2 separate regions of the Homo sapiens genome follow, and region 1 is linked to region 2. The links come from fine-mapping of genetic effects on gene expression. Tissue or cell type: monocytes after interferon gamma. Region 2 holds a variant in brackets; the other region holds the start of a gene. All regions are shown on one strand. Distances are from middle to middle.

Region 1 (5,126 bases), 65 kb before region 2:
GGCATGGTGGGACATGCCTGTAATTCCAGCTACTCAGGAAGTTGAGGCAGGAGAATCCCTTGAACCTGGGAGATGGAGGTTGCAGTGAGCCATGATCGTGCCACTGCACTCCAGCCTGGGCAACAGAGCAAGACACCGTCTCAAAAAATAAAAAAATAAAAAGTACTGCATTCTCTACTAGTTTCACAAGTCACTTGACTTTCCAACGCTTTAAGGATACTTCTTTTATAAGCCCGAATGTACTGCACTAAACTTAGTAGGAGATCCCTGATTGTCCATTATAATTGATCAATTAACTGAAATTACACAAGTAAACAAAAATGCCAGATGTCTGCCTACATATAATATTTATAAATCTGAATTTTATTTCATATATGGATGGAAGTTAAGGCCTTAACCGGTCAGCCTCCTTCCAGTGTTTTACCCTCCATTTTACCCTAAAAAAGGATAATCAACTGTTAACGCATATTCATAATGTGAAGTTTCCAGGATCAAGAATCCAAGAGGTTTTTTATTAACCATAATAAATCCAAACTTCTATCTTCCATATGCCTCCTTCTATTATATCTAACCTTCTATTCTCTCCAAAAGCATATAATTATGCCTGTTTCCTTACTGTGCCACAAACAGACTAACACATACTACCACGGAGCTGTTTATTTTCCAAACGGGATATCTTTTTCCATTCTCTCATTCAACATCCAACGGTCCATCAAGGCCCAACTCAAAACCTATTATTCTCCACAAAGCCCATTATATAAACCCTACAAGACTTAAAACAGATTCCAAACTAGTGACTGATAGGCCATATGAGACTTGTGTTTGACCCACTTTTTTTTTTTTAATAAAATTCTATTCCACTGACAACATTTAAAAACTGGGAGAGGATGCTTTTTAAAAAATGGTATTTCCAACTTTTTTTGAAAAAATTAGATGTTCTGGCAAAACTGGGATCATATTCTCACATAGCCACAATCAGCTGTAGCTGAGTGGCAGGTGACCCCTTCTAAGGGTGAAGTATTCATTAACGTTAACTGCCTGATCTCTGCAGCATACCTTCAGCACCTGCAATCATTCAAGAAATAACTGACTGTCTTATGTGCCAAGAACTGTATTAGCTACTGGAGTTACAAAGATAAACGAGACAAACACAGTCCCTCACCGACAGTCTCGCTTAGTAGGGATGGCAAAGAAGCAATTAAGATACATGTGATAAATGCCGTGAGGGAAGTGCAGGACAGCTAAGAGTACATAGCAAAAATACCTAACTCTATGGAAGTTAGGGTATACCCCTCAAGTAAAGTGACAGCTAAACTCAGATCTTTAATAGAAGTTATCCAGAAAAAGATAGGAGGAAACAGGGAGCTCAAATGTCCCAGAGAGAGAAAAGAGCCTTTGTGAAGATACTGAGGGAAGAAAGTATTCTGAGGAATTGAAATCCGTTCAACATGGCTACAGCCATGCCCAACCTTTAAATGCAGGGTCAGAGAAAGGGCTCAACTGAAATGGCTGGCAGGAAAATCTACGTGTTATCAATAGTTAAGGTTAGGAGATGAAGGAGAATTTCACTAAAGAAGTTGAATATGTAAAATAGTTTAAGCAGGAAATAGAGGTTTCAGAAAGCACAGATGGGGTGTTGAGGGGTTAAATGGGGAAGAAACGAAGAAGCAGTGATAGCCTAAGTCGAAAGAAAGCACAAAGCAGCATGGAAATGAGACTATAGCACAGAAGACCACAGAAGCTTACATCTTGGGCGGTAACCAAGGATAACAGAGATGTAAAGCATGGTAAGTTTGGCTGGCCACAAGTATGCCTAGAGAATTAGTGCCAGCGGTCTCCTGTCGGCCACGGAGGCATTCAGGCCTCTCAAAATTCAGCTGCGCCCTGGATGGATTGTACTTCCGTCTCTATAGAAGACATCGGCTTCACTCTGGATTGATTGTGCAGGCTCCAGGAGAGGCTGTGGGTTCCAGGCTGCTGGAACGCAGGCTCCCAGGGAGTGGTTAGAGGCCTGGTCTGTATGTGCTGGTAGGCAGAAGTATAAATTACCTTGCATTACGTTCTGATTTTTCTGTAGGAATGGTGGGCATGTTATGGCCTCTTAGAGAAAAAGCAGTGCGTAGCCATTATAGATTTACAGGAAGAGAAAAGGTGCCAAGAAGATCAACACTTGTCCATACCCATACTAAAGATGAGTCATTCTGTGAATCCAACTCTCCCCAAGTTGACCTCGTCTCCCCAACTAGACTGAGATCTTCACCAGAAAACAAAACAAAACAAAACATAAAAGGTCTGTTTATTTTGTAGTTCCCAAAGTGCCTAATAGCTGGGTACCGTGAACACCTTCAGTAAAATTACCGACTTCCTGACTCCTCTCGGGTCACTGAAGTTACCTAGCTCAGTCGTCTTCTTGCATATTAAGGCGCTACAGAGAGGCGAACCCCTATCTTAGACTCAATACTTCCCTTTATTCCAAACTCCACTGCGTCTCTCCACCCTCAACCGCATGGGCAGAATTGTCACACAATTCAAAGGCAGGAGAATCCAGGACCCGACACAGAAAACTCCCGCCCACTCCCCCCCGTTTAGCAGCCCGCACACGCTCTGCATCCATCTCTGGGAAAGGTAAAAAGCGCTCACCGACTCTGGCCCTCCGGGAGACCCCGTAAATGCAGCCGTCCGCTCGCCGCCGTTATCCCAGGTAGGTACTTCCGGCGCGCGCAATGACGTTAGCGAAGCGCTCGCCTCTGGGCCCGCCTTCGGGGCCCGGATCTCAAACAGTCGGGAAGAAGCACCGTGGCTGCTATTATCTGCTCTCCGCGCCTGACCCCTCCCAGGACTCGTGATGCCAAGGCCGCTGCGAGCGGCTACGAAGAGTCGGGGTTGAGCCCCAGCTGAGCCGAGGGCTCGCACTCTTCTGGTCTCCCAGGCCCAACCCACCTGAAGGTAAACGCCTCCTCAGCTGCGGCCTTCTCTCCTGCGGGGCCCCCTCCCCAGACTCGGCTGCCAAAACGCTCTGCCCCTCTCTCCCGCCACCCTTTTTATTCCAGGACCTTAACCTCTGCCTGCCTTCGCGGCTCTCAGCAGAACGTGTAACGCATAGTTTCAAATGAGAAACTTAAAAAGCGACGTATCTATGTTGAGTTCCTGAAGTTTTCTAAATAATTCCCCCATAACACCAAACATGAGGCAGTTTTCTCATTCCTTCACGAATTGGCATGCCATAGAGTCAGTATTTTTCCATTTGTGATGGTTGATCTTCCCATCTCAAATACACACCGCACGCTCTTTTTAAATCAGAAATTTGAATTTGGTTGAGCCTGATATTTTCACGGTAATTTGCTGACTTTGTAAGATAAGATGTGAAAATTACTGATTACATTTGTAAACTTTATATACATATACACACATACCTACAGGTCTGTCTCTTCGAGGCACCAAGCCTATTTATATAATGTATCATTTCATAATTTGGCAATAAGCAAAATTAGCGTTTCGAAAGAAGTTTATATTGTCGATACATAAAGCTTAAATTTACTCCTTAACATCATACTAAAAGGGGAAAAGAAAATTTTCCTCTTAACACACCACTCCAGAGAAAAAAAATATTAAGACAAGCAAAAAAGGTACCCAGCCATAGTACAGGCATGCACAGCATAACAACTTTTTGATTAACAACAAACCACATATACCACAGTGGTCTCCTAAGAGTGTAATACATTGTACCATATTTTTAGTGTACGTTTTCTGTGTTTAGCTATGTAAATATTTACCATTGTGTTTCAACTGTCTACATTATTCACTACATTAACATGCTGTACAGGTTGTAGCCTAGGAGCAATAGGCTAGACCATCTAGGTTTGTCTCAGTACACCCTGTGATGTCTGCACTGTGAAATCACGTAACACTCAGAACATACCTCCTTCATTAAGCATAGCATGACTGTGTATTAGCAAAAATCAGTGGCTAAGGTTCTGTCTGAGTCCCCATGCTCTTTCTGACCTGGGTGAGCAAGGTGCAGGTAATGTACATATACAGTACATATTCAATAGAGCATTTTTTTTGCTCATGGTCTGAGTGGAAGTTAGGAGTAGCCTCAGGGTTTTTCCTTCATCTGTTCAAAACCCGTCTCCCTACCCATACAATCTGGCACTGAAAGTGTTGGTATAAAGAATACTTGAAAGAAGAAGAACCAAAAAAGAATTTTTTTTAAGTGGTGACTGGGAAAAAGGAATTCCTTAATTCAGCCTGCTGGAGTCATTGTTCCTAACTTCCTAAAATGTAAGGAAGGTGTACACATCTGGCATAATTAAATCGGTGATTGTTAATACTTTATTGGTTTTTGTTTTTTGTTTTTTTCCAAATAATACCCAGACTGGTCTGATGTATTGGTTTTATTTGGAATTAATAATACTTGGTTTAGGCCAGGTGTGGTGATTCATGCCTGTAATCCCAGCACTTTGGGAGGCTGAGGCAGGTGGATCATTTGAGGTCAGGAGTTCAAGACCAGCCTGACCAACATGGTGAAACACTGTCTCTACTAAAAATACAAAATTAGCCAGGCATGGTAGTGGATGCCTATAATCCCAGCTACTCGGGAGGCTGAGGCAGGATAATTGCTTGAACCTGGGAAGCAGAGGTTGCAGTGAGCCGAGATCACGCCATTGCACCCCAGCCTGGGCAACAAGAGGGAAACTCCGTCTCAAACAACAAAAAAAGAATCCTGGTTTAGACTGATTGCTGATAAGTTTGTTTTCACTTTTAGAAATGAGTGGTGGATTGGCTCCAAGTAAGAGCACAGTGTATGTATCCAACTTGCCTTTTTCCCTGACAAACAATGACTTGTACCGGGTAAGTAAATCTTATCGAGTGACTGCTATTTGAGATACAGATAACCTTAAGCAAATAGTTCTCCCTGGCAAATTCTTTTTTCCTTTTTTTTTTTTTCTTTTTTTGAGACAGTCTAATTCTGTCACTGAGGCACGAGGCTGTAGTGCAGTGGCACTATCATGGCTCACTGCAGCCTCCCCGCCCCCTCAGGTGATCCTCCCACCTCATCCTCCCAAGTAGCTGGGAATACAGGTGTGTGCCACCATGCCTCTACAAGCTACCTGGGAGACTGAGGT
Region 2 (5,212 bases):
ACAATGAGATGCTAGTACACACTAGAATGGCTATAGTAAAATAAAGATTGACAGTATCAAATGTTGATGAGTATTTGGGACAACTGGAACTCTCACATATAGCTAGGGGGAGTGAAAAATGGTACAGCTAGCTTGAGAAAAAGTTTGGAAGTTTCTTACTGATTTAAATATAAAATACCATGTGATCCAGCAATCCCACTCCAAAATATTTACCCAAGAGAAATGAAAACTTATAGTCACACAGAATACTGCATGCAAATGTTTACTGCAGCTTTATTCATAATCGCCAAAAACTGGAAACAACCCAGATGTCCTTATACTGGGCAATGAGTCAACAAACTGTGGTACATACACATAAAGGAATACTATTCTGCAATAAAAAGGAACAAGCTATTGATACAAGCAACCCCATTAAGGAATCTCAAATGCATTATTTTAGGTGAAAGAAGCCAGACAGGAAAGGCTACATGCTGTATGATTTCATTTGTATGACATTCTGGGAAAGGCAACTCTAGGAGTGGAAACCAGATCAGTAGTTGCCACCTGGTTAGAGCTGGGTAAAAGGGTTGACTACAAAGGAGTAGCATAAGCGAATATTTTTGGATATTGGAATCATTTTATATCTTGACAAGGCTAGTGGTTACATGACTGAATGCATTAGTTGAAATTCATAGATGAGTGAATTTTACTATATGAATTGAAATATAAATTTTAGAAAATGATTGCATACATATAATGAAAACCTTGGTTAATAATAATCTGGAGACCTCCTGCAGTGACTAGTGAAAGAGTGAATATATGATCAAGAAACATCAAAAGAGATGCTGCAGAATATGTGAAGAGGTGTGCTAATGTTGTAAATATTGTTTCAGGCATGATAATATGGTTTTGTACAAAAAATTGTCTTACAAATAAATATACATTGGTAAATAGATCACTGTATTACTACAAAGATGAACACAAGCCATATTTTAAAGAATACTATAGAATTAACCATTACATGATAAACTAGGAGTCATAATAATAGATTAACAAATTTTGCCAACCGATTATTCATTCTGCAATCATAAAAGTAAAAAGGCCGTGGAAAAAATGCCTTGCTATTAAAAACATCATAGAAATTTCTTGGGGTGGAGGAGAAGTATGTGCCTCTGGCAAAGAAGCTAAAAGCAAATGTGGAAACTCAAAACCCTCAAAGTAAAGCTGCTTCTCTTTCTGGCAACTGGCATGACTTCATATATATGAAATCTTACTTGGACATCTTATCAACTAGAAATGCTTTGATGTCAGTTTAGAAGCAAGAATTTCTCTATGCTTGCTAAATAACTAGAGATTTCCATCTCCACAAATTATTATTATAAAGCTCTTCTATTAAAATAAGACCAGATTGATTTTATACGTGATCACATCTTACATTTGTAAAATGTATCAACTCTACAAAGCACTTTTACGTGTGTGTGTGTGTGTGTGTGTGTGTAATATATGCCTCATTTAAACTTAAAATTTATGCTTGGATTTGAGAAGATTTTAGAAACTTTCAGACCTGTAACATTCTATTATTTTCAAGTAGTTCAGGAGTTTTATAGCAATTTAGCCATAGAAATACATATCACTATAAAGGTTACAATTTATTTTGGTCCTTTCACTTCATAATAAAAAGAGAGTATAAGGTTTGTTGAGATCTACACTTTAGGCAGCTGTCACCAACAGTGGCATTTGAGTTTTGGCCTTGATTCAAATAGAAACTAAGATTTCATCTCTCCTAGGCCACACCGCGCCCAAACACTATGTATTATGTGAATAGAATGATAGAATTTTAGAATTTCATACCAAGAACAATCGTGAGAGATTTTTGAGTACAATCCTTTCATTTTGCAAACGAGAAAACTGAGGTCCAGAGGACCTAAGTGATAAATACTTTGAGAAGGGGTGGGGGGAGGGGGGAGGGATAGCAGTGGGAGATATACCTAATGCTAGATGACGAGTTAGTGGGTGCAGCGCACCAGCATGGCACATGTATACATATGTAACTAACCTGCACATTGTGCACATGTACCCTAAAACCTAAAGTATAATAAATAAATAAATAAATAAATAAATA[C/AATAAATAC]TTTGAGAAATATTTAGACACAAAAAATACTTAGATAAAAAACAGTTCCAGAATAGAACTGGAGCCAACTCAAATATGTTACAACCTTCAGCTGATTCTATACCTCTCTCCTTGTTTTAATTTGTATAAATAGGCTGGGTGCAGTGGCTCATGCCTGTAACCCCAGCATTTCGGGAGGTTGAGGCGGGTGGATCACTTGAGCACCCTGGGCAACAAGATCAGCCTGGGCAACATGGCGAAACCCCATCTCTACAAAAAATACAAAAATTAGCCGGGTGTGGTGGCATGAACCTGTAGTCCCAGCTACTCAAGAGGCTGAGGCAGGAGGATTGCCTAAGCCTGGAGGTCAGAGTGCAGTGAGCCATGTTTGTGCCACTGGACTTCAGCCTGAGTGACAAAGTGAGACTTTGTCTCTAAAATAAAATATAAATAATCATAATTGTTGTTTTGCCTGAATTGTTTTTTTTTTCTTTTTTAATTTTTGAGATAGAGTCTCGCCCTGTTGCTCAGGCTGGAGTGCACTGGCATGATCTCGGCTCACTGCACCTTCCACCTCCCGGGTTCAAGTGATTCTCATGCCTTAGCTTCTCAAGTACGTGGGATTACAGGTGCCCACCACCACGCCAGGCTAGTTTTTGTACTTTTAGTAGAGATGGGGTTTTGCCATGTTGGCCAGGCTTATTTCAAACTCCTGAACTCGAGTGATCCGCCCGCCTCGGCCTCCAAAGTGCTGGGATTACAGGCATGAAACACCTTGCCTGGCCTGAATTGTTCTTTTGCCTAGGGACAGGGCACCCTAGGCAGAACGAATCCTGGCAGGTGGCCTAGATGTCCCATGAGAGTATTCAGTGAGTCCAGGGAGGATGGGCTACCTGACAATTCCACTAAGCTGTTTGGGCTTCCATGAGTCAGAGGAAAGAAAAGAGCAATGCTCCTTTTCAAGCCCCAGTGGCACTCAGGTAAGCCAGGTAAAAGCAAACATTTGCATAGAACTTACCGTACCAGCCACAGTACTTTGTGTTATCAACCCACAATAATTCTTTTTTGTTTTTTTTTTTTTGAGATGGAGTCTTGCTCTGTCGCCCAGACTGGAGGGCAATTGTGTGATCTTGGCTCACTGTAACCTCCGCCTCCCGGCAAGTACTATTATCACTCCATTTGATAGGTGAGGAAACTGAGGCACAGGAGAGTTAAGTAACTTCTCCAATATTCAGGTAGACAGTGGTAGCACTGGGATTAGAAACTGTCAGTTTGGCTCTAGAGTCTAGCCATTGTGTTGAGCTGCCTCAGAAAAACAGCTGGCACTTAGATATTACATATAAGTGCTAGGTGCCCTTCCTTCTTTCCTTCCTTCCTTCCTCTCTCTCTTCTTTCTTTCTTTCCTTTCTTTCTTTTTTCCTTTCTTTTCTTTCTTTCTTTTTCCAGACAAAGTCTCTCTCTGTCACCCAGGCTGAGTGCAATGGTGCAATCTCAGCTAACTTCAACCTCCACCTCCCAGGTTCAAGAGATTTTTCCTACCTCGGCCTCCCTAGTAGCTTGTACTACAGGTGCACGTCACCACACCCAACTAATAAGGCACTTTTCCCAAGGGCTGTACATATATTAAGTGGTTTAACCCTCATAATAATCCTGTAAGTACATATTATTATTAGTCCCATTTTACAGATGTGAAAACTGAGCCATGGGTTAAGTAATTTGCCCACAGTTACACAGCTAGTATGCTTCAGAAGCAGAATCTGAATCCTGGCAATCTGGTGACAAAAGATCCCTTGCTTGGCCAAACTTTAGTCAGGCTTCTTTTTATTTTTTTTTATTTTTGAGAGGAGTCTTGTTCTCTCCCCCAGGCTGGAGTGCAGTGGCGCGATCTCGGCTCACTGCAAGCTCCGCCTCCCGGGTTCACGCCATTCTCCTGCCTCAGCCTCCCGAGTAGCTGGGACTACAGGCGCCCGCCACCATGCCCGGCTAATTTTTTGTATTTTTAGTAGAGACGGGGTTTCACCGTGTTAGCCAGGATGGTCTCGATCTCCTGACCTCGTGATCCGCCCGCCTCGGCCTCCCAAAGTGCTGGGATTACAGGCGTGATCCACCGCGCCCAGCCTAGTCAGGCTTCTTAACCTTCTGCTAAGCCCATTTGTCCACTTTCTTGTAAAATCCCATTTTAGCAAAGAACCCTGCTGGGTGAATTTGACAAGAACTGCCCTCATCCATGATATCTGATCATCTTCAATACCTGATCAGGTTCCTCATTCTCCCTGTTCCCCAGGTGATATCTGGTCACCCTGGCCTGTCTTCAGGAAACATCCTGTTAGTTTGGTTTAGCTTGAATCCTCTTTACCCCTGACATTTCTTCTTTGTAAATTTCTATCCACTGACTCCCACTCTGCTCCTTGGCTATAATTCCCACTGTGATGTTATTGAAGTTGAGCCCAATCTCTCTTTCCCACTGCAAGACCTCATTGTGGTGGTCCCTCTTCCTATCGCAGTGGTACTGAATAAAATCTTCCTAACTGTGCTTCAACAGGTATCACTGAGTAATTTTTTTCTTTTTACACTGGCTATAGATAATGCCCCAACCACTGGTTTTTGCTTCTTTACAAATTTATTAATATTAAAAATTTTTAAATATATTTAATTCTGGCCGGGCACGGTGGCTCACATCTGGAATCCCAGCACTCTGGGAGACTGAGGCCGGTGGATCATTTCAGGTCGAGACCAGCATGACCAACATGATGAAACCCTGTCTGTACTAAAAAAAAAAAAAAAAAAAAAAAAAAAAAAAGCCAGGTAGGTAGTGCACACCTGTAATCTCAGCTACTCTGGGAGTTTTAGGCAGGAAAATCGCTTGAACCTGGCAAGCAGATGTTGCAGTGAACCGAAATCGTGCCACTGCACTCCAGCCTGGGTGACAAAGAGAGACTCCGTCTCAAAAAAAAAAATTTTGCATATATATATATATATATATATATATATATATATATATATATATATATTTTAATCCAATTAATGTTAAGTAAGGCCAGGTGTGGTCGCTCATGCCTGTAACCTCATCATTTTGGGAGGCTGAGGCAGGAGGATCACTTGAGCCCAGGAATTCAAGACTCCATCTCTACA

Alleles and levels. Alleles are on the strand shown, and positions count from the first base shown. SD is a standard deviation of normalised expression in the study named.
For the expression in monocytes after interferon gamma of the gene that starts at base 2,703 in region 1, AATAAATAC is the low allele of the variant in region 2 and C is the other (moderate effect, 0.53 SD a copy in Fairfax 2014).

Evidence for each region. PIP is the estimated chance that this variant, and not a neighbour inherited with it, causes the effect.
Region 1: it holds the start of PPHLN1, and the variant in region 2 is fine-mapped to the expression of PPHLN1 in monocytes after interferon gamma (Fairfax 2014, PIP 0.95).

Annotation. Positions count from the first base shown.
Region 1 is chr12:42,323,744-42,328,869 of GRCh38, reverse strand. PPHLN1 (periphilin 1) reads right to left here and starts at 2,703. Exons shown (of 10, transcript NM_201439.2): 1 at 2,641-2,703. It overlaps ZCRB1 (zinc finger CCHC-type and RNA binding motif containing 1), which reads left to right and starts at 2,776. Exons shown (of 8, transcript NM_033114.4): 1 at 2,776-2,946; 2 at 4,766-4,851. The coding sequence starts at 4,768. It overlaps MIR7851 (microRNA 7851), which reads left to right and starts at 5,011; the gene lies at 5,011-5,126. RefSeq lists an enhancer at 3,031-3,080.
Region 2 is chr12:42,258,455-42,263,666 of GRCh38, reverse strand. No RefSeq gene overlaps it. Among named protein-coding and RNA genes, the nearest start is that of YAF2, 23 kb to the right of the region's middle. The variant C/AATAAATAC (reference allele first, on the strand shown) is at 2,102.